3 separate regions of the Homo sapiens genome follow, and all the other regions are linked to region 1. The links come from fine-mapping of genetic effects on gene expression. A gene starts in region 1. Each other region holds a variant in brackets. All regions are shown on one strand. Distances are from middle to middle. Region 1 holds the start of SLC7A5 (solute carrier family 7 member 5). Region 2 overlaps SLC7A5 (solute carrier family 7 member 5). Region 3 overlaps CA5A (carbonic anhydrase 5A).

Region 1 (10,001 bases):
CCAGGCTGGTCTCGAACTCCTGACTTCAGGTGATCCGCCTGCCTCGGCCTCCCAAGTGCTGGGATTACAGGTGTGAGCCACAGTGCCTGGCTGGTTTGAATTTTTAAATGATGATGAATTCATGTATGACTGATGTGATTTTTATTAGAAAGAGAAAACTAGGCAGCGCCCCATCCTACGTCTCCTTCCTGGTGGCCAATGAAGCATTTCCCACGACTCACTCCTGGCACCAGCAGGAAGTCAGAGACTCAGCACCCAGGGGCTGCTTTTTTTTTTTTGAGACAGGCTTGCTCTGTCACCCAGACTGGAGTGCAGTGGCGGGATCTCAACTCACTGCAACCTCCACATCCCGGAGCATGCCTCAGACTCATAAGCAGCTGGGATTACAGGCGTGAGCCACTCTGCCCGGCTAATTTTTGTATTTTTAGTAGAGATGGGGTTTCACCATGTTGGTCAGGCTGGTCTCGAACTCCTGACCTCGGTAGATCCGCCCGTCTCGGCCTCCCAAAGTGCTGGGATTATAGGCGTGGGCCATCACACCCAGCCAACCAGGGGTTCATTTTTTAAAGATAAGAGTGCAGGCTGCGTAAGCTACTATCCATGTCGTTACATACCGGGCCGACATGTACCTAGGCGGGAGGGAGACTGAACCAGTGAAATTCTAATGACAAAAAAAGAAATCAGAGTCATCCCCTACATTCACATCTCCAACGCCCAGCTGGAAGGCACAGGCTCTCCCCACTGCTGTCCTGCTACGATTTTTCCCGGCTTTGACCTGCATGGTGGTGCGGCTGCTCGACTCAGAGCCTCAGAGAAACCACACAGAGCCCTGCTGAGTCTTGCCCTCGGGGCATTCTCACATTTATGAAGAAATGCCTCCCCCTCCCCCTCCCCCCCAAAGTACGGTGTGGCAGAAAACAGCGCCAACAGGTCCTGCCAGTCAGAAGCCACTCCCCTGATTTCATGGCTCAAGACCCCAACTATAAATTAGCCCTTCCCACCTTGAATGTGTACACACACTATTGAGATGCAGGCCGATCCATGCCATGGGATGAATCTGAGAATTGCCAAGACCCACCTTCCCACGCCACCCAACCAAATCATGTGGCATCTGCTACAAGTGATTTTCCCCCTGAAATCCCACAAGAAAACTATTTTGAGGCCGGGCACGGTGGCTCACGCCTGTAATCCCAGCACTTTGGGAGGCCGAGGCGGGCGGATCACAAGGTCAGGAGATCGAGACCATCCTGGCTAACACGGTGAAACGCCGTCTCTACTAAAAATACAAAAAAAATTACCCGGGCGTAGTGGCGGGCACCTGTAGTCCCAGCTACTCGGGAGGCTGAGCCAGGAGAATGGCATGAACCTGGGAGGCGGGCTTGCGGTGAGCCGAGATCGTGCCACTGTACTCCAGCCTGGGCGACTGAGCGGGACTCAGTGTCAAAAAAAAAAAAAAAAAAGAAAGAAAAAGAAAAAGAAAACTATTTTGAAAAGCAGTTATCTCTGGCCTGGTGAAGAACACACCAGCACCATGCCCACCAAAACAGGAGCCCCATGGCTGTTTCCCAGAGAAACCTGGGACCCGCACGTCCATTCACTGCAACACAGACTGAATCTGCAGCCAAGCTCCGCTCTCTCACTACTGGGAACCCTCAGGGGGGATCCCTTAGCCTAAATCAGCACCAGTCACTACCCGCACACGATGTTATTACTACTGTTTTCTTATGAGTCAGCCCGTGTCACTGATTCCTGACGAGCTGGTGTGGAGAGCAGAAATGAATGATTTTTTTTTTAACTGCAATTTCCTTCTCACCAACCAGTCAGCAATCGGAGCTCTAACAGTAAACCGATTGCTCAGTTACTCCACGTGGGTGCCACGCAAGAGGCTGGGAGTATTGCTCAGCGGGGCCAACGGGAGGGTGGCACTTGCCTAAACCGCTTAAGTGGGGGAATGGAATGCCCACCGAAGGGCAGGGCAGGGACCCTGCTGTCCCGTCACTGAAGATATTCCCAGCCTGTGGGGAGAAGTGTAAAAGAATGAATGAAAGAAACGCACGTGGTTTCTGGGACCAATGACCTTAGCCTAGAACTGCCGGGATGGTCCAGGAACGTAAAGATGTAGAGATGTGGGAGCCAGGGGCGTAGTGATGCAAGGATGCAGGGACCCAGAGACTACGACCTCCCAACCCCCGGCCCGCGCCCCGTACTCACGCACGCAGAGGCAGGCCACGAGCTTGGCTGCCTCCTCGGGCACCGGGCAGGTGGGGAAGAGCGGCTTGAGCAGGTAGGTGGCGAAGACCAGGGCCACGATGTACTGCGATGAAGGCCGGATGATGAGCAGCTCGATCCAGAGCTTGAGGAAGGCGGGCAGCGAGCCGTAGACCTCCAGCATGTAGGCGTAGTCGCCGCCCGATTTGGAGATGGTGGTGCCGAGCTCCGCGTAGCAGAGCGCGCCCACGATGGAGAAGACGCCGCACGCGGCCCACACCACCAGCGCCAGCCCCGGCGAGCCTGCCTCCTTGAGCACGCCCGTGGGCGTCACGAAGATGCCCGAGCCGATAATGGTCCCCACGATGATGGCCACGCCGTTGAGCAGCGTGATGTTCCGCTGCAGGGTCACGCCCTCGCCCTCGCCTGCCGGCGCCGAGCCGTCCGCGCTCTTGGCGGCCAGCATCTTCTCCCGCGCCTCTTCCTTCTCCTCGGCCGCCGGCGCCGCTAGCGCGCGCCGCTTCGGGCCCGCACCCGCCATGCTCTGCGCACCGGCCGGGCCTGGGACACCCGGGAGCCGCGGCCCAGCGAGCAGTGTGCGCGCCGCCCGCCGCCCGCAGCTGCGTCAGGAACCCCGCCCGCGCCGCCTTTTAGGCCCCGGCCCGCCGGCCCCGCCCACCGTCCGCGGCTCCTCCCCGCCCCGTGGCCCGGCCCCGTCCCTCAGCCCCGCCCCCTCGGCCCAGCTCGGAGCACGTGCGTCGTCCGGCCCAGCCTGGCGGGCTATTCCCAGGCCCGCGTGGTCCTCGAAGGCCCCAGTCCTCCTGCGCCATGGAGACCCCGGCCTCGCGACCTCCCCCCTCCCGGCGCCCGCGTCATCCCAGCCCGTCCTCCCGGATGCGCCTGGGCGGGGCCTGGCAGTCAGGGCGCGCCCCTTCACCCACTGGCCCGCAGCCTCTCGTCAAGCCTGGGAGCGGGCAGTGCACCAGGGCTGGCCTGAGGCCAAGGATGGAGTTTGGGGTACCCCCCGAAGGGAACCTAGGCTCCTGTCCCGGATGGGCCGAGGGGATGGAACCGCCCCCACAACCAGCTCCTGGGGCACGGGGGAGGGATGAGAGGATGACCTGAGGGGAAGCTCCTGCAGCCTCCTTCCAGCCTGGGGGCTGCATCAGTGGGGCTGGTGAGCCGCGAACTGGGACGAGGGAAGAACCGAACCGAGGCCACCCAGTAATTCCCATTGTATCCCAAAAGAATCTTGCCAAAGACGGCGATCCGGTGCCCGTAGCTTTGAGAAGCAGTAATAACACAGGCTTTGGGAAGCCAGCAATCTGCCTGAGCTCAATTTAATCAACAGAACCGGGGGTTCGCTGGGAGCCATAAGACCCCCACCCCCAAATCTACCTGGGGAATTCAAAGGCAGGCTTCAGTGTGAAGGGGCTTTAAAGCTTGTTATTCCTAGGGAATGCGAGAGGCATCTTAGCTAAAAAGGGTTGAGAGGTAATTTCAGTTAGAGGCGAGAGCAGGATGCCAAGGCTCCTAGGCCTGGAAATGGGAAGGAATATAAATACTGCCCCGAGATTGACCAGACTGGTGAGCGGCCAAAGACCTGTTCAAAGGGTGTGTGTGGGTCAGGGAGGAAGCTCCTCAGTATCACCCCACCCCGGGGTTCCTTGGCGTGTGTGCAAACGAGTCCTTGGAAGCTCACAGCAGGCATGTGGGGAGGCCTTTGTTCTGGGTGAGCGTTCAGCCTCCCAGGGCAAACACGCAAACACCGGTTGCAGAGCTGGGTGTTCACAGCAAGACAGTCTGCTGGGCAGATGCCTCTGGAATCCACAGAATTCTGAACAATAGCCGTGGTGGAGGGGGGTCAGAATCCCTGTCGTGCTGGGACCTCTAGCTGCAGCCAGGAATGTCCAGGCCCCACCCCAGGGAGGGGGCGGCTGAGGAATGCCAGGGCTTGTCATTCTGGACCTTGCTCGCCCCCCGGTATGTCGGGCATTCCTCTGCGGTGATAAAACCGAGCGAAATCTCAGCAGCCCAGGCAGCCACAGGCGGGGGAGTGCGGAGGTCACACAGATACTAACTTGTAATCTGCCGTCCACATTGCTGGCTGTGGAAGGTGCAGAGACCCCTCCATCTGCCCTATTCTTCCCGCTGTGCCTGCAGAGGGAAGGAGACAGTACCACCATGGCTGGGCAAACTCACCGAGTGCTCACTGAGTCCTCCCCTAGACAGCTTCTTATGCAATAGGGTAGGTGCCAGTTAGAGCCATTTTGCAAATAAGGAAGCTGAGGCTTGGTAGGGTTACCTCGCTTGTCCGGCCAGCAAGTAGCCTGGGAGCTGTCCTTTTGACTCTGAACTTATATGGTACTTTTAATCATTCCACCATTCTTCTTTGAGTAACAAGAAAGGCAACCAACAGTCATACCCCAAAGCATAAAATTACAACCATGATAAGCCAAGGACATGACAGGGTGAGCCAGCGACAGCGACAGGGACCAGGCAGGTCCAGATAGACTTTTCTGAGGTGGTACCTGGAGCTGAGAGCCCAGGGTGAGTGAGAATTAATAAGGGAGGTGCAGGGGTCCCCACCGGCACAGAGGGGGCCCTGCACAGTTGGTGCAAGTCATGGTTGGTGCCCCCAGAGCCAGGCTCCTGGCAAGTGCTGGAGCCCTTAAGCAGGAAGGGTGACAACAGCCATGAGCGTGTTCAAGTCACACAGCTATTACGCCACCTCTGTCGGTTTTTACTGGGTTTTCATATGACAACATTCTAGATTTATCCAGCAAATCTACTCCTCTCAGACGTCCCTGATGCCGGCCCTGAAACGCCTTCGCCTGAAAGCTATGACTCTAGAATCTTAGCAAAGAGTGCCATCTGTTGGAAAGATTCGGCAGCGTTTTGATTTTTACAGAGGCAGGACAATGGTCTTTTCAGCTCCAGTCAGTAATTTATCACATGTTGTGTATTTTCAGAGGTTAAAAAAAAGAAAGAAAGAAAAGAAAAAAAAGTTGTGGCACTCTCGCTTGAGCTGGTTGGGAGAATACTTTCTTTTCTTTTTTTTTTTTTTGAAACGGAGTCTCACTCTGTCACCCAGGCTGGAGTGCAGTGGCACAGTCTCAACTCACTGCAACCTCCGCCTCCCGGGTTCAAGCAATTCTCCTGCCTCAGCCTCCGGAGTAGCTGGGATTACAGGCACCCGCCACCATGCTCGGCTAATTTTTTATTTTTTGTATTTTTAGTAGAATTGGGGTTAGCCAGGATGGTCCCAATCTCCTGATCTCGTGATCCGCCCGCCTCAGCCTCCCAAAGTGCTGGGATTACAGGCGTGAGCCACCACGCCCAGCGCCCTGCAGGTCCTTTTTAAGGCTGTTTGCAACATAAATGAGACGAGGCATCTTCTGCCCCCCTCAGAGCGCCAGCGTGGAGTTGAGCAGGCCACCCTCTCTCACAAGGCGAACCCGTCATTATTTTGTCATTTGGAGCAACTGCAGGGGAGCAGCAAGGCCACAGGGCGAGGGGAGAGAACCCGGTGGATAATCCTTTGTTTTCTAATTATGAGATGAGTCTCGCAGTGCAGGGATTGTGGTTTTCATCTCAGCAAAATATAGGAGTGAGGTCCGGAGCGGATCCTTGCTCTTCCTTTCAACTCGTTCTTTTTCCCAGGAAAACGACTTACCTGGTAAACCCTGTAAACCAAAAATAAAATTCTAAGGGCCACCCCAGACATCTAAACAGACTTCCTCCTCAGCCAGGGCTCTTAACATTTAACCTGAAAGACTGGTTTGGGCCAGGAAGAGAATCGGGGGTTGGACGGCCTCTTTAGACCTCTCCAGCACTAACACCAACACATACTTGAAGTCTATCAGACTTAAAGATTAACATTTTACAGCCTGTTCTCTTTGAAGCCTCCTAGCTAAAAGCTTCATCTGCATGATACAGCTTTCATCTCCACAGCCTCACCACAACCCAAACATTCCTTCCTTCCTTTCTTTCTTTCTTTCTTTCTTTCTTTCTTTCTTTCTTTCTTTCTTTCTTTCTTCCTTCCTTCCTTCCTTCCTTCCTTCCTTCCTTCCTTCCTTCCTTCCTTTCTTTCTCTCTCTCTCTCTCTCTCTCTCTCTTTCTCTCTTTCTCTCTTTCTTTCTTTCTTGTCTCACTTATCGCCCAGGCTAGAGTGTGGTGGCGCGATCTCGGCTCACTGCAAGCTCCGCCTCCTGGGTTCAAGTGATTCTCCTGCCTCAGCCTCCAGAGTAGCTGGGACTACAGGCGCCTGCCACCACGCCCGGCTAATTTTTTTGTATTTTTAGTACAAACGGGGTTTCACCGTGTTAGTCAGGATGGTCTCCATCTCCTGACCTCGTGATCCGCCCGCCTTGGCCTCCCAGAGTGCTGGGATTACAGGTGTGAGCCACTGTGCCCGGCCTCCAAACATTGCTTTCTACTGATCCCAGGTCTTTTGTGTTTTTCTTTTTTTTTTTGAGACAGAGTCTCACTGTCGCCCTGGCTGGAGTGCAATGGCACGATCTTGGCTCACTGCAACCTCTGCCTCCCGGGATCAAGTGATTCTCCTGCCTCAGCCTCCCGAGTAGCTGGGATTACAGGCACCTGCCACCACACCTGGCTAATTTTTGTATTTTTAGTAGAGGCTGGGTTCCACCAGGTTGACCACGCTGGTCTCGAACTCCTGGTGATCTGCCCACCTCGGCCTCCCAAAGTGCTGGGATTACAGGCGTGAGCCACCATGCTCGGCAACAATCCCAGGTCTTTAGACAACAAACTCAAACAATTGTCAACCAGAAAATGTTTAAATTGGTTGGGCGCGGTGGCTCACACTTGTAATCCCAGCGATTTGGGAACTTTGGGAGGCCGAGGCGGGGGGATCTCGAGGTCATGAGTTAAAGACCAGCCTGGCCAACATGGTGAAACCCCATCTCTACTAAAAATATAAACATTGGCCGAGTGCGGTGGCTCATGCCTGTAATCCCAGCACTTTGGGAGGCCGAAGCAGGCAGATCACTTGAGGTCAGGAGTTTAAGACCAGCCTGGCCAACATGGTGAAACCCCGTCTCTACCAAAAATACAAAAAAATTAGCTGGGCGTGGTGGTGGGCGCCTGTAGTCCCAGCTACTCGGGAGGCTGAGGCAGGAGAATGGCATGAACGTGGGAGGCGGAGGTTGCAGTGACGGGAGATCGCACCACTGCACTCCAGCCTGGGTGACAAAGCGAGACTCCGTCTCAAAAAAAAAATATATATATATATATATATATATATACACACATATATATACACACATATATACACATATATACACACATATATATACACATATATACACACATATATATACATATATGTATATACACATATATACATATATACGTATATATACACATATATACACATATATATACACACACACACATATATATACACACACATATATATATATAAACATCAGCTGGGCGTGTTGGTGCACCGCCTGTAATGGGAGGCTGAGGCAAGAGAATCGCTTGAAACCAGAAGGCAGAGGTTGCAGTGAACCAAGATTGTGCCACTGCACTCCAGCCTGGGTGGAAGAGCGAAACTCTTGTCTCAAAAAAAAAAAAAAAGAAAATGTTTACATTTACCTCTAGCCTGGAAGCCCCCCTCCTGCTTTGAGTTGTCCCGCCTTTCTGAACCAAACCAATGTATTTTTTAAATGTACTTGATTGATGTCTCATGTCTCCTTAAAATGTATAAGACCAAGCTGCACCCCAACCACCTTGGGCACATGCGGTCCGGACCTCCCGAGGCTGTGTCACGGGTGCGCCCTCAACCTTAGCAAAATACGCTTTCTAAATTAAAGGAGGCCTGTCTCAGATTTGCTGGCTTCACAACCCTTAATTGAAGTGGGGCTTCCTGGGGCCGCCTCTCTCCTGTGAGTCCCCTGCCGGGCTGGTTCTCAGTCACAGGGGAGAAATGCCTGCATCTTTTAACATAGCAAGGGTCCTTGCTTCTTCTGGAGGTTGTTTTTGAAAGCCATGCTTTTATTATGCTCAGAGGTGAGCTTTTCCTATCTGCATGCTTGACAAGGTGGGGCTGCCCTGAGTACGATCAGAAATTCCGTTCTGTTTCCAGGCAGATAGGTGTGTAGGGCAGCCACTCAGTCAGTGTTCGGCCTTAAAGACTCTTGCCAGTCAAGGAAGACGACCGAGGCAAGTCTCCGTCATTTTAGCTTTAAATGCCAACATTAGGGACGCGCACCTGAGAGACTGGTCTATGCCTTTCTCCGAAGATGATTTTGAGGGCTTCAATATTGAAAGGGGGAAGGGCAGGATATTGGGCAGTACACAATTTTCATGTGAAGGGGGTAGGGGAAAATTCAAGTTTTTGTCTGGTTTAGTGACTCTGCCGTTTCACGTAAGATACCCTAGACGATAGGGCAGCGGAAACAATGAGATATGCATTTGCTTCAGGTGGGCGGAGGGATGACTCAGTTCTGCCCCTCGTCCCAGCACCTGTGAAGATAAGCTAACGGTTCACATTGCCAGGGTGAACTTTAACAGAAGCGCTTAGGGTAAAGATCTTGGAGCCCACAAGGAATTTCCTTATGGGCAAAATGTGAGGGAGGTGTGTCGCTTTTCATCTTTTTTTTTTTTTTTTTTTGAGACGGAGTCTCACTCTGTCACCAGGCTGGAGTGTAGTGGGTCGATCTCAGCTCACTGCAACCTCTGCCTCCCGGGTTCAACTGATTCTTCTGCCTCAGTCTCCCAAGTAGCTGGGATTACAGGCGCCTGCCACCATGCCCGGCTAAGTTTTGCAGTTTTAGTAGGGACGGGGTTTCATCATGTTGGCCAGGCGGGTCTGGAATTCCTAACCTCAAGTGATCCACCCGCCTTGGCCTCCCAAAGTGCTGGGATTACAGGGGTGAGCCACCAAGCCCAGCCAAACTTTTCATCTCTGTAGCTGTTTGTTAAATAATTAGGAGCCGAAACAGGAGGCTGGTTCCCATGACACGGTCACCAGCTTCACTTTTCCCTTTCGTTAGCAAGTGTGGGGTCCCAGGATTTATGTTCCTTTCACACTCTCTATGCCATTTAATTTTTGCAGCAACTATAGTTAGTTGTCATTTATGGTTGGAGAAAAAGGGCAGTTCAGTAAGTGGCCAAGCCCAGCTTCAGACCCAGGGCAGGCCTTTAATCCTCGTGGCAATGCTGACTGCCACGCTGATGGCGCCACTTACATAGGCAGCCAGATTCATAAGCATGCGGATTCTCCCAGTTAAAAGAGAATTTTGGCCGGGGGCGGTGGCTCACGCCTGTAATCCCAGCACTTTGGGAGGCTGAGGTGGGCAGATCACAAGGTCAAGAGTTCAAGACCAGCCTGGCCAACATGGTGAAACTCCGTCTCTACCAAAAATACAAAAATTAGCCTGGCGCAGTGGCAGGCACCTGTAATCCCAGCTACTCGGGAGGCTGAGGCAGGAGAATTGCTTGAACCCAGCAGGCAGAGGTTGCAGTGAGCCAAGATTGTGCCACTGCACTCCAGCCTGGGCAACACACTGAGAATCCATCTAACAACAAAAAAAAGAGAACTTCATTTCAGCTGCCCCTGGTGGCACCTTGAAAGCCTCATTGCCTCTTCACTGGAAACATCCACCATTCTTGTTAAAGAAAAGACACTCATGACTTTCCTTCACCGAATCCTTCTAGCTTCTGTTTGAACACTTGGGTAGTCCCCCCACCCGTTTCCTGAAGTTCGTATGGGGGAACGGTAAACAGTGTCCATGCCTGCAAGTAAAATCCGAAGCCCTGCG
Region 2 (8,672 bases), 24 kb before region 1:
CTGCTTTTGCTAAGGACAATATACCGAGGCTTGACATGGTATGAGGTCTTCAGTCAGGAGCCAGATATTGGCAGCCCTAAGGCCTGAGTAACTTTTTTTTTTTTTTTTTTTTTTTTTTTTTTTTTTTTTTTGAGACAGAGTTCCACCACGCTTGGCTAATTTTTGTATTTTTAGTAGAGATGGGGTTTCACCATGTTGGCCAGGCTGGTCCAGCTCTGCTTAAGGGTGGCCTGGAGGGCTGCAGGAGGGACCTGCTTGCAGCCCAGGGCAGCTGGACACAGGGAGGTCACCACACTCATCCAGTGACTCCACGCTACACACAGGGGAGAGACACACCAGAGGTGGGAGTTAGACAGCGTTCAAACCCTGGGGGCAGCACCCCTGTACCTCTCAGCATGACCAGCGGGCATTCTGCACACCGGGAGACCTGGGCTGTCACGACGGCGGGGTGCGGCGCTACTGGCACGGAGCAGGAGGCCGGGGATGCTGCTGGATGTCCTGCAATGCACGGGACACCCCCACACAACAGAGAGCCCACGGTGGCAGAGGTGCCAGGCTGAGGCCCTGTGCAAGAAGACCATGACAAGGCATCAGCCACGAGCCTCTACCCCTGCCGGGAGGACAGGACCAGCTCCTCTCAGCTTTCTCTCCCATGGACCCTAGACTCGGGCGTGGTCCTGGCTTCGACATGAAGCCCCAGGCACTGGGCAGGACTGGAAGGAATGGCTGAGCGGCCCACTCATCCAGCAGCCACCCAGCCTCCACACCTGACAGTCTGCTATCCAGTCAGCCTCCACCCACAAGGAGGGGACAGCGTGACAGGGAAGTGAGGAAGAGAATCACCGTGGACAGACGGTGACATCTGCCAGAGCCCACAGAGACGCGAGAACAGACTCAGCGCAGAGCCTGAGTGGGGCCCTCCAGCCCCTTCCTTGTCCCTAAGAGGCATCTTCCTCAGGGGCTGGTGGAGCTGCCATGAAAGCAAACGCACAGCCAAACCCCGGGTGGGGGGAAGGCAAACTGCAAACGCCGCGGCGACCCCGGCACAGCAGCCCTGTCAGCAGGATTCCCCCGAGAGCGGGGTAATTGCGGTGGGAACGAGCGCTCCAAAGGCCCTGGGGAGATGATTTCAGGGAAAAGTGGCCTTGATCCCTGAGTCAGGCAGATGCGGCCATGGGAACCATCCACCCCGAGGCTGGAGGGGAGACTCCGCCGGTGGCTAAAGCCATCCTGCTGACGGGGCCCAGGGACGCCCCCAGTGGCCAAACGCACGTGGGAACGGGATCTTCCCCCTCCTCTGTGATGCGGCCAACCCTCCAAGCCTCTGGCTCCTGACTCAGAGGACGATGTCTCCCCATGAACGCAGTGTCCCTGGAGAGAAGAGCCTGCCCAGCGTGGGGAACATGGGAATGTGGAGATGGAGGGCATCCCGGAACCTCAGGGCTGACGGGCCCCTGCCCCAGCCCTGGAAACACCTCAGGGACAAGAGAGTCACTCCTCAAGCGCGGACTTTCCACTGTGCTGGGGCCTTCCGCCTTCCAACCACTCTGGCCCCTTGGGGCTCTAGGTGGAGTGTGCTGAACAGTGTCCCCAAAATTCACGTCCAGTGGAGCTGCGGGATGTGTCCTAGCTGCAAATGCGGTCTCCGCAGGTGCAATTAGCGAAGGACCTTGAGATGAGATCATCCCGGATTAGAGTAGGCACTAAGGCCGACGACAAGTGTCCTCAGCGACACAGAGACAGATCCAGGGGAGACAGAGCCAGAGCCAGCCCAGGATGCCTGGAGCCACGGGCAGCTGGAAGGGGAAGGTGGCACCTTGGGTCTGGACCTCTGGCTGCCAGGACCAGGACCGTCTGCATGTCTGTTGCTAAAGCCAGTCTGTAGGCATCTGTCACCACACATGAGGGGCCAACCGTGCCACCCAGGGGAGACCTCCCGGCTTCTCAGTGCATCAGGCATGGTCAGGGGCAGGACAGCTGCAGCTCACACCCCACTTCTCAGTCACCAGCCGAGTGCACAGCCAATGGCACCTCATCTAAGAGGGGGCTGTGAGTCCCATGTGGTCAGCACCCTGGAGCTAGCTGCCCTGTGGGCTCAGGGAAGTCGTGCAGTGACCGCCACATGGGTTCAGTCCAGAGCCCAGGCCAGAGTCCATGCCCACCCCACAGAGTCCACGCCCACCCCAGAGTCCATGCCCACTCCAGGCAGAGTCCACGCCCACCCCACAGAGTCCACGCCCACCCCAGAGTCCATGCCCACTCCAGGCAGAGTCCACGCCCACCCCACGGAGTCCACGCCCACCCTAGGCCACGGCGCCGCTTTTCAGATGCCTGTTTCGCTCTGGCCATCTAATGCCTGGGAACCGTGATGGGGCAGGAATTTGGGTTTGGGGGTTCTGGCGGCAACCAGATGGCACTTTTGGACCACCAGCAGTGTCTGTCGGTCTTGGAAACTCATGAAGGAGTGGGCCCTTTGCTTAGAGCTGCCAACCTCACACCAGAAGTAAAAGCTTTTTCCAACTCCACAGGCGGGGAAAGACCCTGAGAACTGTCCCCAGCACAGGGCTGTGGCTGCCCTGGCCTCTGTCCATGCGTCTGACGAAGGGCACCGGGAGGTGAAGGCCGCGGGAAAACAAGCCCCGCTCCCGTCCTTTGATTCTGTCCCAGCACACGGCACCGGCAGAGCCCCAGCTTCCCCAGCCTGTCATCCTCCCGAGGCCGACGGCACAGAAGAATGGCAGGCCCAGGACACACTGAGCTCCCAGAGCAAGCGGCGGGTCAAGCATCCTTTATCAACTGCGAGGTCTTCGAGGCCCAAAAGAGGTGCCCTGAGTCGCGAAGTACCCACCCTTGGGGCAGCCAACGCCGCAGCCCTGGCTCCAGGCCCAGGTTGTCCGGAGTGGAGCCACACTCGAGCCTGGCACCAATCTGGGAGCTCCTGAGCGCAATGTCCTGTCTGTCCCTGCATGACCCTGAGACTGTCTGAGATGCCTCACAGAGAGATGCCCTGGAGTCCCCCACAGGCAGGCCAGCCTGGAAGCTTCTCTGGAAAGTGAGCTTTGGCAGCTCGAGGCCGAGCTGTGGCCGACTCCTCCCTTGGTTAACACAGCCTGTACCCAGCTGGGATTCACTTTGAGGCCCTGGGGCTTGCCCTATTTCCTGCCAGGAGAGCGGGGCCCGAAGCTCCATCCTGTCCCC[C/T]AAAACTCAGACGTGGAAGCCCTAACCCCGGTGTGGCTGTACGTGGACATGGGGCCTCTACAGATTAAGGGTAAGTGGGGTCCTCAGGGTGGGGCCTGATCTGACAGGATCCTTGTCCACACAAGAGGAGGCCCCAGACAGCTCACTCTCCCACAAGGAAACACAGCGAGGGGGTGTCTAGGAGCCAGGAGGCCGAGCACCCCGCCCAGGGCATCAGGGTCCCTGGCCTGGCGGGGCCTCTCACCGACTCTCCCGCCGGCATCCAGGTAGCAGGGCCCTGGCACCAGACCCTCTGAAGCTGAGACCCACCCACCCAGGCCTGCTCCGCTCTTGCTGTCACCCCCGGAGAAAGCGGCAGTCAGGGCGTGAGGTGAGGAAAAGGGGCTGTTGGACCCTGCATGGCAGTGGCTCCCGTGCCGGGGACGCGGTGAGCCTGGCCTCCTCCCTGCAAGGGAGGACAGCCCATTTCCCAGGGGAAGACACCGAGGCTCAGACACCCTGGCCGGGGGGCGGCAAAACTAGAATCCCAAGGCAGCTGCACATCTAGCACCTGCCCTTGCCCTCTCTCCGGGAGGGCACCCTAGAAGCCCACAGTCCTGATCTGGGGTTCGGAGAGCAGGCTGGGCTGAGCTCTGCTGGGAGCGCCTAGAAGCCCAGCTATGGGTCCACGCACACACTCAGGTGAAGCCAGGCCCAGAAGAAGGAACAGCTCTAAGCCACAGCCCAGGGGGGCTTCTCAGTCCACGAGGCGACCCCTCCACACCCCAGAGCCACAGACAGCCAAGGTGTGGGTGAAACGTTTTTCTCACCAGAACAGCCCAGCAGCTGGGCATGTGCTGTGACCACTGAGGGGGCCTTTGTCAGAAACATCGTCTGGGGGCTGGACGCCCCCACCCACAGGAAGAGGAGACCAAGACAGGGCCGCACACCCCCAGCCAGATGAGGGCCAGATGAGGGAGGCGGCACCTCTTCCTCCAGGAAGCTCCTCAGGAGGGACATCGGGAGGGGCTCAGGGGGCTGCCTTCAAGGAAGCTCAGTGAAGCTCAGAGACCAGTCTGAAAAGGAATGTCCTCCAGACCTCCACCCTCTCAGGATGGACGTGTTACTCAGGAACTGTCCCGTCAGCTTTTCCCGTAACACATGACACCCCACGTGAACCTCCCAAGAGCAGATGGGCCCAGTGCTGTCCACCCGAACGCACCTTGGGAACAGAGGTGTGGGCCTCCCCCCAGCAGCGCATGACCCTGCACACTGCACCCAGGGTCACAGTGGGGGTGGGGAGGGACCTGCCCACTGCTCACGGCTGTGGGACCTGGGGCAGGGCACCCCACTTCTCTGAGTCTAAGGGGCCCTACTAGCTGAAGAACCAAAGGAAAACCATCATTTCAAAACTGTCACGTGACACACAAATGCAGGCCCCTGCCCCACAGCCCAGTGGCACACACGTATTTACCGCCTGGGACACGGGACCGTCCAGAAGTGCCCTACTCATAGGTGTAGGTCACATCCAGGGGTCTCGGCCACCGGGACCCAGGGCCCAGCAGCTCAGCAAAGCCATTCAGCCGGGGTCTGAGCCCTGCCCAGGGGAAGCATTTTCCCCTCCTGGGGTGAAGGACAGCAAGAGGCACGCCGCCCTGGCAGGCTGCGGCTTTCTTTCCTTTTTGTGGACAGAGTGAAAGGGCAAATTTGCTCCAGGGGAATACTGACCTCCAACAGTACAATGTGGGAGGAGAAGGAAAAGAAAGTTTTTATGCAACCTTTTTTTTAAATCTGCCCAACTATCCAATCTGTAACTGTTCAAGGAGAGATTAGTTTGTTCTGCCGCTGACGGCTGCAGCCCAAGCAAAGCACAAAGCGCCCCATTGTGTCCTCCAGGAGGGACGTGCTGCTGCTGCTGGGCTGGGACGGCAGAGCCTGTGCCCTCGCTCCCACCCTCCGCCCTGCAGGCGAAGGCCCAGCCACCCTCTCCTTAGGCAACAGCCTGCGAGTGGACTCATGGGACGGTGGGTCAGATCTGAACCCTCATGAGTACTGTCTCCCTTTCGAAAAGGCTGGGACTAACTGTAGAACCTCATGTGACACCTAAGCCTGCGTGTCCCCATGCCCCAGCCTAGGGGCAGCCATGACTCCCCCAAGACGCGGAGGAGGCAAGGGCTCCCGACCACTCAGGCCCCTGCAGAGTCGCCCCTGTCACTCAGCCAGCTGCCCCTCCCAGCCCGCATCTCAGGAAAGGCCCAACCCCTCAGAAGGGCTTTTCTGGTCTGCACCAGGGCCCCGCTTATTCCCCACTGCGACTCTCCCATTCACGTGCCTATGGCTCTCAGGTCCCCCCATGAGCTCTGGATGCGGGGCCATGTTCTCATTGGGACCCGGCATAGATGCGGCACACGGGACAGAAGATGGTTCTGCGGATGGCCAACTGGGAAGGGGTGATTACAAACTTCCCTGACGAGGAGGAAACAGGTCAGCCAAGGCCTACAGGACCCTAGGGCCAGTGCCTTTCCATAGCACAGGGCCCACCTGGGGGCCAAGGGCAGCAAGGAGGAGCCTTTTCAGCCCCAATGGAGCAGGGCACCCAGGGTGCGGGACAGGCAGGAACAGGTGCGTGGGCCAGGCCTGCTCTGCCAGATTTTCGCTGCATTCTCCAGACCCGGAAAGGGCCACTTGCCAGTCGTTGCAAAATTGAGGCCGGAGTCTCTGCCTTGAAGTATCTGGGGGCGCTGCTGCCAGGTGCCAGCGAGGGGAGGGGGCAGCTGCCCAAGGGCTTTGCGTCCACTGGGGGGTATAAAGTTGGACAACTGCTTTGGGAGAAAGGGGTCAACACAATGTATCTTCTAAAAGCAAGGCATTCATCTGGTAACAAAATAAATCTGTTGAAGCCAAACAGGAGACAGGAATTCTGCAGACACTGCACTGTATCCCAAAGCTCAGAAGGGAATTGCTGGGGGGAGCACGGTGGGAGGACGCTTTCAACAGCTAACGGAATTATAAACCTATTATGTATTCAAGTCGAACAAAAGCTCTTTGCTCTCCCTACCGAAATTTGTTTTTACAAAAATCACGTTCCCCTCCTAAATCTTTCCTGGCTATCTGATGAGCGCAGCCAAGCAAAGGCCTTCACGAGCAAAGCACCCCTTCCGTGCCCACTTCTGGGAGGCACAGGATGGATTTGTCTCCTGCCCGTAAAATGTCACTCAGGCCCAACCACCTCCCTGGGCAACTTCTGAGTGCCCGGGAGCCATGGAATGAGCTCGTCTTGCCTTGAGTAAGGTGCCGGAACCTGAGGTCCCAGGAAGGTTCAGAATTGGGACTTCCTGCCAGCCCTGTCCTGCCAGCTCTTGGGTGGCTCTGGTACCCCGGGCGACTCTGAGAATCCCTGGTCAGACACATGCATGGGGGATGGGCTCGAGCTCCTGAAGGATTGACCTGGGCAACCTTCCAGAGCCACCTGGGAATCAAGTGGGACTTCCCCTCGACGATGAGGCAGGTAACTAACACCTGCTGCAGACTTTGTACAGATTGATACATTTGATAAAGACAGTCTGGCCCCAGCCCCTGGAGCTCGCCTCGCTGTGGTGAGGTCAGTATAGCCCGGCACTGCATCCCCCTGCAGGCCCAGGTTACCTGCTTGGTGTGGAGACCCCTCCCCAGCTGCAGCCAGACTTTGTCCTAAGGCGAAGTGCCACGTACAGCCAGCAGGGGGCGCCAGGAGCAAGGCGGAGGCTCAGCTAAAGCTGCGTGCTGGGTGCTGGGTGCTGCGGGGCACTGTTCAGTTCACAGCCCACCAGTGGCACGGTGCACACAGGAGAGCCTCCCAGCCCTGAGGCAGGGCCCCACACAGGAGGAGGCAGCGTCCTTGTGTCTGCATGTTTTGGCCTGGCCGTGCATGGGGGCGGGGCAGCTCACAGCTTGCTGGGTGAGGACCTTCCTGCCTCTAGGAGCAAGGTCCTTGCCCTGTCCTCTGCAGCCCTGGGGTCCTACCTGCCTCCCCTACAGCCATGTGGGACCAGGCAGCCTCTCTGCAGCCATCGGTGACTGCGAGTCACCAGAGCGTGCATCCGCCGGGTGCCTGCACTCAGCGAAAGCTCCACAGCTCCAGGACTGGGATCATCTCTACCTGAGGCTCTGGGAGAGAAGAGAAGGAGGCCAGCTCCTAACTGCTCTGCTCCTAGGCTGGCTCCAACATGGATGGAGACAAACTCAGAAGGAACTGCAGACAGAGGCATCCCTGCTGGACTCAAGCAACAGGGCCCCCCACTTCAACTGTACCCAACCACGGGTGGGATCCAGTGCCAAGGACAGTGTGTCCCAGGGTCTGTGACCACACAAATGGGAACTGCTTATGAAACCCCAGCCCGACCTCACCGCGGAATGGCAGTGTGGAAAGGGTGGAGGCTCTGCAGGCAGACACAGAACACAGATCTATGGAGTGTGTGTTAAAGGGTCCAGAGACACCCAGCAAAATACCAACTGTGTCAGTCCACGTCAACAGAGAACACAGGTGCAAAGGGGCGGGGGCTGTTTCACACTCACTCTCTTTATTCCTTCTACCAGCCCCAAGAGAAAAAGCAGCTGGGAAAAAGGCTCAGAATCAGTGATTTCCCCAAGATCACACAGCACAAGACCAAAGTCTGGGCCAGCCAGCCTTAAAACCTGTGCGCCAGACTGCTCTCACCTGTTCCCGAATGCTAACAGTGGACACGTCTGAGTGATGGGGTTACCACGTTTGTTTTGTTTTCCATGCTTACCTCATCTTCTTTAAAAAGCAGACAGAAACACAGAGACAATCCCACACCTGCCCATGGAATGATGAATGAATCACAGCATGACCAGGAGCATGGCCCCGTCGGGGGTGGGTGAGGGGCGACAGCACGTGGGACTCTGACAGACCCAGGGTGAGATGGCTCGGGTGAGGTCTGCATGGCAGGCATAGCCCCTGCCAGGCCTGGAATGTTCCACATCGCCCCCAGGTGAGGTTACAACGCATCAGCTGGGCTCTCAAGATTCACAGACATCGCAGCGTAAAAAACAAGAAAAACTGCCAGAGCCCCTCCCAGTGGTGGCCACGCTGTCCCACGGGAGCACTCCTGTGTCCCCCTCTGGGTCGGATTTCACTTGCTGGGTGATTTTCCCAGAGGGAAATCTCCACGTTGTACAGCACTGCAGAGCTGCGGACTGGGAGGCACCCGGGGACGGGACCTCATGCCCTGTGAAGGACACACAGGCAAAGCCTCGAGGGGCCGCCGGTGGGGCCTGGGGGACGTACTCACCCTTCCCGATCTGGACGAAGCCCAGCAGGATGATCAGGGCCAGGGCCAGGAGCTTGGCGGCGGCAAAGGCATCCTGGACCCGGGTGGCGGCCTTCACGCTGTAGCAGTTCACGGCCGTGAGCAGCACTGTGGAGACAGAGGGCAGCGGTGAGTTCCACGGGCAGACAGACGCCAGCTCAGGGGTAGGCTGGGAGGTGACGACCC
Region 3 (10,246 bases), 24 kb after region 1:
GCAGAGTGTCACTCTGTCACCCAGGTTGGAGTGCAGTGGTGCCATCTCAGCTCACTGCAACCTCCGCCTTCCAGGTTCAAGTGATTCTCCTACCTCAGCCTCCCAAGTAGCTGGGATTACAGGCAAACGCCACCATGCCTGGCTAATTTTTGTATTTTTATTTATTTATTTATTTGAGATGGAGTTTTGCTCTTGTTGTCCAGGCTGGAGTGCAGTGGCGTGATCTCAGCTCACTGCAGCCTCTGCCTCCCGGCTTCAAGTTATTCTCTTGCCCCAGCCTCCCAAGTAGCTGATATTACAGGCATGCACCACCACGCCTGGCTAATTTTGTAGATTTAGTAGAGACGGGGTTTCACCATGTTGGTCAGGCTGGTCTCGAACTCCTGGCCTCAAGTGATCTGGCTGCCTTGGCCTCTTTAAGTCCTAAAATTATGGGCATGAGCCATGACGCCCAGCCCAAGAGTATAACTTTAAAAAGTGTATACAAATATTATTAATTAATTTTCGAAAAAAAAAAAAGCAATGAAACTATTTAGATAAGAAAAAGGAGGCCGGGCTCGGTGGCTTATGCCTGGAATCCCAGCGCTTTGGGAGGCCAAGGTGGGCAGATCACCTGAGGTCAAGAGTTCAAGACCAGCCTGGCCAACATGGTGAAACTCCGTCTCTACTAAAAATACAAAAATTAGCCAGGCGTGGTGATGGGTGCCTGTAATCCCAGCTATTTGGGAGGCTGAGGCAGGAGAATCGCTTGAACCCAGGAGGTGGAGGTTGTAGTGAGCCGAGATCGCACCACTGCACTCCAGCCTGGGCGATAGAACGAGACTCTGTCTCAAAAAAAAAAAAGGAAAGAAAAGAAAAAGGAAGAAAACAAAAACCATGCAGACCCATGACCCTGGGACAACTCCCATGGATGCCTCGTGTGTCTGTGTGTGATAGATTAGGGCGTTGCTCAGGACATGCTTGCTGTGATCACTGGAACCGCTGTCCAATCTCAACAAGCTCCTACTTCAGTTGGAATTTTCTTCTTGTGTAAGAATGCCCCAAATGCATGAAAGAATATATATAACTCCACAACGCTCTCATGCAGCATCTTAGTGACGCTGCCAAGCAAGAGGGACGCCTTCCATGAAGCGCCATCGTGCCAGTTACGGGCACGGCTCACCTGGCTTGGGGCCACTTCAACGGGCTCCTTCTGGATGATCCAGGTGACCGACTCGGTCAGCGGCGGGGTGGTGAGCGAGCCCGCGTAGGTCCAGTAATCCCAGCAGGTGGGCAGCAGAGTGGAGGGGTCGAAGGGGCGCATGGCCGCCCGCGCGTCCTGAGAGACCGAGAAGCACAGGACGTGTCAGTCCTCAGGGGAGACTAGGAGCTTCCATCTTGTCTCAGCACGTGAGGCCTTCATGGTGCTTGGAAGGAAGTGCTTTCCCCCAGATAAGGCCATGAGGCCACTGCTGTCACACTTGCAAGCAGTGATGAGAAAATGTGACCCTTCTATACAGAGCAAGGATTCCTGCCAACTTACATTGGTGGGAATTACGTTACATTACACCAGCTTACGTTGGTGCTCACATTTTTCCTTTTGAAGTCATTTCTTGGGGCGCAGTAGCTCACCCCTGTAATCTCAGCACTTTGGGAGGCCGAGGCGGGTGCATCACTTGAGGTCAGGAGTTCGAGACCAGCCTGGTCAACGTGGTGAAACCCTGTCTCTACTAAAAATACAAAAATTATCCAGATGTGGTGGTGGGCGCCTGTAGTCCCAGCTACTCAGGAGGCTGAGGCAGGAGAATCGCTTGAGCCCAGGAGGCAGAGGTTGCAGTGAGCCGAGATCATGCCACTGCACTCCAGCCTGGGCAACAGAGTGAGACTCTGTCTCAAATAATAATAATAATAATAATAATAATAATAATAATAATAATAATAAATTAATTAATAATAAAAATAAAAATAAAGCCATTTCTTTTAGCATACCTTGGCTGCAAAAAATATTACTTTTTATTGTGATAAAATATACATAACATAAAATTTACCATCTTAACCTTTTTTTTTTTTTTTTCGAGATGGAGTTTTGCTCTTGTTGCCCAGGCTGGAGTGCAATGGTGTGATCTTGGCTCACCGCAACCTCTGCCTCCCAGGTTCAAGCGATTCTCCTGCCTCAGCCTCCAGCGCCTGCCACCACGCCCAGCTAATTTTTGTATTTTTAGTAGAGACAGGGTCTCACCATGTTAGCCAGGCTGGTCTTGAACTCCTGACCTCGGATGATCCACCCGCCTTGGCCTCCCAAAGTGCTGGGGTGAGCCACTGTGCCCGGCCTATGGGCTCCTTTTTAAGGAGGGAGTCATGGTGGCCAAGAAGGATGTCCACATGCCTAAGCACCCGGAGATGGCAGACAAGAATGTGCCCAACCTTCATGTCACGAAGGCCATGCAGTCTCTCAAGCCCCGAGGCTGCCTGAAGGAACAGTTTGCCTAGAGACATTTCTTTCTTTCTTCCTTTCTTTCTTTCTTTCTTTCTTTTTTTTTTCAGACAGAGTCTCCAGGCTGGAGTGCAGTGGTGCGATCTCAGCTCACTGCAGCCTCTGCTTCCTGGGTTCCAGCGATCCTCCTGCCTCAGCCTCCCTAGTAGCTGGGACTACATCTTCACGCCATCGCGACCAGCTAATTTTTTATATTTTTAGTAGAGACGGGGTTTCACCATATTAGTCAGGATGGTCTCGATCTCCTGACCTCGTGATCTGCCCACCTCGGCCTCCCAAAGTGTTGGGATTACAGGCGTGAGCCACCACGCCCGGCTTGCCTGGAGACATTTCTACTGCTACCTTACCAATGAGGGCATCCAGTATCTCCGTGATTACCTTCATCTGTCCCTGGAAACTGTGCCTGCCACCCTATGCTGCAGCCGTCCAGGGACTGGCAGGCCTCGGCCTAAAGGTCTGGAGGGTGGGCGACCTGCAAGACTCACAAGAGGGGAAGCTGACAGACATACCTACAGACGGAGTGCTGTGCCCCTGGTGCCGACAAGATAGCCGAGGCTCGGGCTGGGTCAGCAACCGAATTCCAGTTTAAAGGCAGATTTGGTCGTGGACATGGCCAGCTACCTCAGTAAAATCAGAGAGGATTATTTTGCATTGAATACACTCACAGCCAAAAAACAAAAAGAGTCAGGGTCTTACTTTGTCACCCAGGCAGGAGTGCAATGATGCCATCATAGCTCACTGCAGGCTCTAATTCCTGGGCTCAAGCGATCCCCCCGCCTCAGTTTCCCAAGTAGCTAGGACACCACACCAGGGTTTAAAATTAATTGTTTGTAGCCAGGGGGTCTTGCCATCTTGCCCAAGCTGTTCTCCAACTCCTGGGCTCAAGCGATCCTCCTGCCTTGGCTTCTCAAAATATTGGGATTACAGGCATAAGCCACTGTGCCCAGCCAGCTCTTTTGGATATATACCCAGAAGTGTGTGATTGCTGAATCATAGGGTAGTTCTATTTATAACTTTTTATTTTTTTTATTTTTTTTGAGGCAGAGTCTCACTCTGTCTTCCAGGCTGGAGTGCCGTGGCATGATCTCAGCTCACGGTGGTTGGGCCTGGCCGCAACACAGCCCTCATCAGCGTCCCATGCCAACCAAGCATAGCTCTGCACCTGCCCCTGGCCAGCACTGTGGGACAAGAGTCCAGTCCAAAGTGACAGAGTCCCTGTCTGCAAGGAAGATGGCCTCCCTGCTCAGCCACATCACATCACCTTGACTTTGCTGGGCCCTGGCCTTCCAAGGTGGAAGCTGGCAACCCAGATGCCTTGGGCTTGTCTCCTAACATCAAGCAGTGAGGGTCAGGGTCAAGAGAGGTGGCTGAGCTACCAGAAGGAAGCCCGGGAGTGTCCACACTGGCAGACACATGCATCAGTTCTATGCACGCATGTTCACGTTTATAATTATCCAGTTAATTAAAAAAAAAAAAACAGCATTATAGGCTGGGCACAGTGGCTCATGCCTGTAATCGCAGCATTTTGGGAGGCCAAGGCAGGCAGATCACCTGAAGTCAGGAGTTCAAGACCAGCCTGACCAACATGGCGAAACCCCATCTCTACTAAAAATACAAAAATTAGCCAGGCATGGTGGCAGGTGCCTGTCATCGCAGCTGCTCGGGAGACTGAGACACAGGAACTGCTTTGGCACAGGATGCAGAGGTTGCAGTGAGCCGAGATGGCACCATTGCACTCCAGCCTGGGCAACAGAGAGAGAGACTCTGTCTCAAACAACAGCAGCAGCAGCAAAACCCACAGCATTATTGTGATAGAATTCACATACCATGCAACTCTCCCATCTAAAGTGTACAGCCTGGTTGGGCGCAATGGATCATGTCTGTAATCCCAGCACTTTGGGAGGCCGATGTGGGAGGACTGCTTGAGGCCAGGAGTTTGAGACCAGCCTAAGCAACATAACGAGACCCTGACTCTACAAAAAATACAAAAACTAGCCAGGTGCAGTGGTGCACGCCTGTGGTCCCAGGTAGTTGGGAGGCTGAGGTGGGAGGATGGCTTGAGCCCCGGAGGTTGAGGCTGCAGTGAGCTGTGATCATACCACTGCACTCTAGCCTCGGTGACGGAGTGAGATCCTTTCTTAAAATAAGTAAATAGGCTGGGCACGGTGGCTCACGCCTGTAATCCCAGCACTTTGGGAGGCCGAGGCGGATGGATCACCTGAGGTCAGGAGTTCGAGACCAGCCTGACCAACATGGCGAAACCATGTCTCTACTAAAAATACAAAATTAGCCAGGCGTGGTGGCGCATGCCTGTAATCCCAGCTACTCGGGAGGCTGAGGCAGGAGAATCACTTAAACCCGGGAGGCAGAGGTTGCAGTGAGCTGAGCTCATGCCATTGCACTCCAGCCTGGGCAACAAGAGTGAAACTCCATCTCAAAAAGAAAACAAAAAACAAAAAACAAAAAAAGTAAATAAAAATTGAAGGGTACAGTTCTATGGTTTTGGGTATATTCACAGTTGTGCAGCCATCCCAAGTCAATTTTAGAACTTCCACCTCAAGGGGGAAGCTTGGTACTTTTTAGCTATGGTCCCCACCCCCGCCCTGCTGCTTCTGTCTCTGTGGGTTTCATAGGAACTGAGTCATGTAACATGTGGAACATTTGTGTCTTGTGTCTCTCACTCAGCACGGCGCTTTTGAGGCTCACCCACACCGCAGCATGAGTTAGAGCTGTGTCCTTTCTGATTGCCAAGTAATATCTCACTGCATGGTCTAGCTGGGTTGACATCCCATTGCACGCTCTAGCTGGGCTGTGAAGGAGCAGACTGCTTGTGCATGTGGGTAACAGGCGGGTGTGCAGTGAGACATCAGTCTGGTGCACGTGGGTAACAGGCGGGTGTGCAGTGAGACGTCCGTCTCCTCCTGCCTGCCACACATCCCCAGGGCACAGATGTGCCAGTCACTTTCTGAGCAACTACTTCAAATCTTCAGAACAACCCTTTGAGAAGTATTTCTAGTTTACTGATGAAGATAGACAGACAGATATAAAAAACTTGCCCAAAGCCACGTTGCCAGTCAGGGCCACTGAGGCCTGGCCCGTTCCGAGGTGCGGGCTCTTCCTTCCCTCCCCAAGGCTGCAGGAATCAGTCAGGGGAGTGGCAGGCTCCAGCCATGCCACTGCGGGTAGGTTTCTTGCCAATTAAGCTTTCTGCCTTGGGCTGAGAAGAGGATGCCTGTGTGTTGCCTCATCGTCCCCAGGAGTTCCTGTCCTGTCTCTAAGATGCATGAGGGCTGGAGCAGCCATGTGGTTACAGAAAACTGCTCCCCCTCAGGGCCCCCAAAGCAAATCAGGGCCCTTCCTTTATGCATGTGGTGATCCTCAGGCAGCTAGAATGGGACACCGGTGAGCACACCAATGAGGCTGAAGACCATCACATCCATTATCTGAGCACGGATGGCCCAGCTACCTGTGGAAAGCACCACAAGCCTTTGCTGGTGGAAGTGGGTTGGTGACTTGTTCCACTTTTCTTTTATTTATTTATT[G/T]TTTTTGAGACAGAGTTTCACTCTTGTTGCTCAGGCTGGAGTGCAATGGCACGATCTCGGCTCACCACAACCTCCACCGCCCAGGTTCAAGCGATTCTCCTGCCTTAGCCTCCCTAGTAGCTGGGATTACACGCATGCGCCATCACGCCTGGCTACTTTTCTGTTTTTAATAGAGATGGGGTTTCTCTATGTTGGTCAGGCTCGTCTCAAACTCCTGACCTCAGGTGATCCGCCCGCCTCAGCCTCCCACAGTGCTGGGATTATAGGCGTGAGCCACGCTCTGTTCCTGGTTTTGTCTTCTTTCTCTTAAACAGGACCCCACATTTTATGAGCGTCAAGCCCCACCCAGCCTAACTCCGCCCTTGCTTTGTCCTCTTAGAGTCTCAGTTTCCCCAGGTGTACGACAGGCAGTGTGGTGGCGGTAATGGGCTTCCATCAGTGCCTGCCACGTGGGCGTGGGGCTCAGTAGGTGCTGCCGCTGCTGCTGCCAAAGCTAGAAGAGCCCCCACAGGGCACAGAGCCGTTCCCTGGATCCCCTGGACCTGGTGGGCTGTTTCCACCTCCACAAGGCAGCCAATTCCCCGGTAGCTCTGACTGTTGCGAAGGCAGGGAGGAGGGGGGACCCCAGCAGCCTGAGGAGCTTGCGGCTTGTCCAGGCATGGAGGGTGGGGACCCTCTGTGGGCAGTTTTTGCCAAAACTTCTGGCTATGGTGAGAGGGTCAAAGGCGAAGCCTTGAGGTCTCCATTCTGGAATTGTCTGCCCGGGGTCACCAGGACCACACTGGGGCTGTGCCTGCGTGCTGGGAGCTGAGTGCATAGTGACAGGTCGGCACTGGTAGGGGCCTGTGCAGATGGGATGGTGCTGGGGGTGGGGGTGGGGGTCCAGGCTTCCAGGCAGCGCCTGATGTGGTTTTGGTTACAGACACTGCCTGTGTTTCCCTCTAAGCTGCTGAAAAGCTCAGAAATGTGCAGCAGGGGCTGGAGCTCAGCCTGGGTTCTGACTGCATGCGGGAGGTGGGCGCCAGGATGACTGGGACTTCAGGCTGCGTGGACCCACTTCCTGGGTTTAAAAACGGGCTCTTCACCTGCCAGCTGTGTGCTCGGGCAAGGCCTTCTCTGCCTCTCTGAGCTTTGGTTTTCCTGTGTGTGCAAGACAGATGAATCACAGGCCCTGCCCCGTGGAGTGATTGGAAGATTCAGTGTGATAATTTATGTGGAGGGCTGTCGCTTCTTTGAACCCCTTCCGCCGAGGTGTAGGGTGATGTCCCCTTGCCCTGAGCCTGGGCAGGTGCTCCTGACGGGAGTGGTAAACAGGATGCCGCAGGAGCAGTGCTTTGTGACTCTGGAAGCCAGGGCAGAAAAGGACATCGTGTCCATCTGGCTCTTTCTGGAAATGCACCCTTGGAGCCCTGAGCACTGCATAGAAGCCAGCTGGGTCCCCAGGGAGTGACCGTGGCAGGCATTCCTGGAGGGTCTCTGCCGAGTCAGTCCCACAGCAGGGCCCGGACCAGCCTGGAACCAGGAGAGATGATGGGGACTACGTGACTCTGGTCTTTCCTGCCCTAATTCAGGACAACTTGTTCCTTAACTGGAGGAAACCAGGAAAGCAGCCCAGAAGCTGCAGGTGAGCCCGTCCCTGGGTGAGAACTGCTGAGTCCGCGGGGGAGTGGCAGAGCTGGGATTTGAAGCCAAGGCCATCTGCCCTTGAGCCTGAGGCCACCATGGCCCTGTCCTGCCCTGCACTGCCCACCAATCAGGAATTAGATTCAACCACACTTCTAGCATTTTCCATCACAAGGCCATCATTCTAAAATTTCATGGGCTCCCAGAAGGTAATAGCTCTCTCTGGGAATCACCTGACAGAAAGCACCCGCAGCAACAAAAAGCGATTTTAACCTTAGTGATTGGGCTGGTGGATTTTCGTTTCGTGACGGGCAGCAGCAGCCTGTGCCTTCCACAGCAGACTTGAGTGTGTGAGTGTTGGCCACAGCTGGGCCTTAAACTCAACTGCACATTTCACCAAGAACCAGACATGCTCCTTATTCCATTACATGGTGAGAATGCTGCTCTAGTGTGGATTTTTTTTTTTTTTTTTTTTTTGGAGACGGATTCTCGAGCTGTCACCCAGACTGGAGTGCAGTGGCACGATCTCGGCTCACTGCAACCTCCGTCTCCTGGGTTCAAGCGATTCTCCTGCCTCAGCCTCCTGAGTAGCTGGGATTACAGGAGTGTGCCACGATACCCAGCTAATTTTTGTATTTTTAGTAGAGACGGGGTTTTGCCATGTTGGCCAGGCTGGTCTTGAACTCCTGACCTCAGGTGATCTATTCACCTCAGTCTCCCTAAGTGCTGGGGTTACATGTGTGAGCCACCATACCTGGGCTACTGTGGATGTTTAATATCTCCATTTCACAGGCGAGGAAGCTGAGGCTCAGAGGTGCGCAGCTCAGGAGTGGTGGATCTGGGCTCTGAACCCAGGAGTCCAACTGTGGGGCTCTCTGATACACTGTGCTATGGGAGAAGCTCCCAGAAGTCCTAGGCTAGGAGCCTCTAGGCGAGAGAGTTGTTCAAGTCTCTTCCCATTCCCTGGCCCATGAAGCACAGACTCTTGCTCCCAAGGCTGGGCCTTTTACCTCCTAAGGTCTTTTTTTTTTTTTTTTTTTTTTTTTTGAGATGAGTCTCGCTGTGTCACTCGGCCTGGAGTGTAGTGGCACAATCTGAGCTCACTGCAACCTCCACCGCCCAGATTCAAGCAATTCTCCTGCCTCAGCCTCCTGAGTAGCTGGGATTACAGGCACCCGCCACCACGCCTGGCTAATTTTTGTATTTTTAGTAGAGATGAGGTTTTATCATGTTGGCCAGGCTGGTTTTGAACACCTGACCTCAAGTGATAAGCCCGCCTTGGCCTCCCAAAGTGCTAGGATTACAGGCGTGAGCCACCGCACCCAGCCTCTTAAGGTCTTTTAATTTCTCAAAGGTCTAACTCGGCCAGGTGCGGTGGTTCACGCCGGTAATCCCAGCAATTTGGGAGGCCAAGGTGGGCAGATCACTTGAGGTCAGGAGTTTGACACCAGCCTGGCCAACATGGTGAAATCCCGTCTCTACTAAAAATACAAAAATTAGCCAGGCATGGTGGTGGGCGCCGGTACTTCCAGCTACTCATGAGGTTGAGGCAGGAGAATCACTTGAACCTGGAAGGCGGAGGTTGCAGTGAGCCGAGGTCGCACCATTGCACTCCAGCCTGGGCAACAGAGCGAGATTTTATCTCAAAAAAAAAAAAAAAAAAAAAAAAAAAAAAAAAGAGTCTAACTCTTTATTTTCAGCTGAGGGGATGAGCCCAGAGATCAGCATCAGGACCAGAGCTCAGTCCGCGGTGGCACTTCCTCCCCTGTCCCGGGCATCATTCCTCCCCTGTGGTTTGCCTAGAAAATTCTGACTTACCCCATGGAGAAGAAATGCTCCAGAACCTTCCCCGGGAGGAAAACAGCCCTTGGGTAAAGGGTCCTTCACAATCAGCTCTTTTCTTTCCCACCAAGAGGTGGGACCACCTGGTGTGGGAGGTGGAGGCTGGCTGGGAAAACAACCCCTGCCCAGGTTTCCTCTGGCTGTGGAGCCGCGTGGAGGAAGAGGATGGGGCGTCAGAGCTCTCAGAACCGTGGCCTTGTGAAGTTCCTGAGCAGGCAGATGGGGCGGCAGGGGGTGATCTGGTCCCAGTCCCAGGAGGCCACCCCGAAGCCAGCATCAAGGCGAAGGCCACGTACAGATCAAACGTCTCCTTGAACCGCGAGGAAGGGCTGGTCCCAGCTCCATCTGGACCAGCCTCCACCATTGTTAACACAGGTTGAAGCCTCATCCGTCCGCACATGTGAGGCTTGCGTTGACTCCTTCTGCCCTGGAATTCTTTTGTATGCTGCTGAATAAATAAACTACATTTCTTTGGAATTTCTCCTTCTCCCTCAAAGCCTTTTCTCAGCTGATCTTGGAGAAAGGCGACACTGTTGTCCCCACCATCTTTTCGAGCTGCGCTGGATACAGGGAAGCCTATGGATCGCTGGGCGGAGAGCTGCGGTTTGGGCAGGTTTCTCTCCGCCCTTGGGCTTGGGGTCGGACAGGGACGTTCAAGGAGAGTGCTGGGTGGTACATGAGTCAACATTCTTAAATGTTATTAGTTAGGGATTTGAGGTTTTTGTTTCAATCTGTTTTAAAACAAACTTTATCATTAGTGAATACC

Evidence for each region. PIP is the estimated chance that this variant, and not a neighbour inherited with it, causes the effect. A credible set is the group of variants that fine-mapping cannot tell apart.
Region 2: its variant is the best candidate, but not a certain one, in a credible set for the expression of SLC7A5 in whole blood (TOPMed, PIP 0.90).
Region 3: its variant is the best candidate, but not a certain one, in a credible set for the expression of SLC7A5 in whole blood (INTERVAL, PIP 0.50).

Annotation. Positions count from the first base shown.
Region 1 is chr16:87,866,674-87,876,674 of GRCh38, forward strand. SLC7A5 (solute carrier family 7 member 5) reads right to left here and starts at 2,834. Exons shown (of 10, transcript NM_003486.7): 1 at 2,212-2,834. The coding sequence starts at 2,749. RefSeq lists a silencer at 2,798-3,147, enhancers at 3,388-4,147, 3,592-4,791, 4,148-4,909, 9,321-9,848 and a cis regulatory region at 4,871-5,197.
Region 2 is chr16:87,843,256-87,851,927 of GRCh38, forward strand. SLC7A5 (solute carrier family 7 member 5) reads right to left here. Exons shown (of 10, transcript NM_003486.7): 2 at 8,469-8,594. Among named protein-coding and RNA genes, the nearest start is that of MIR11401, 6.3 kb to the right of the region's middle. RefSeq lists enhancers at 234-1,161, 6,119-7,025, 6,888-7,182, 7,026-7,931. The variant C/T (reference allele first, on the strand shown) is at 3,199.
Region 3 is chr16:87,890,637-87,900,882 of GRCh38, forward strand. CA5A (carbonic anhydrase 5A) reads right to left here. Exons shown (of 7, transcript NM_001739.2): 6 at 1,163-1,318. Among named protein-coding and RNA genes, the nearest start is that of SLC7A5, 26 kb to the left of the region's middle. RefSeq lists an enhancer at 7,199-7,898. The variant G/T (reference allele first, on the strand shown) is at 6,016.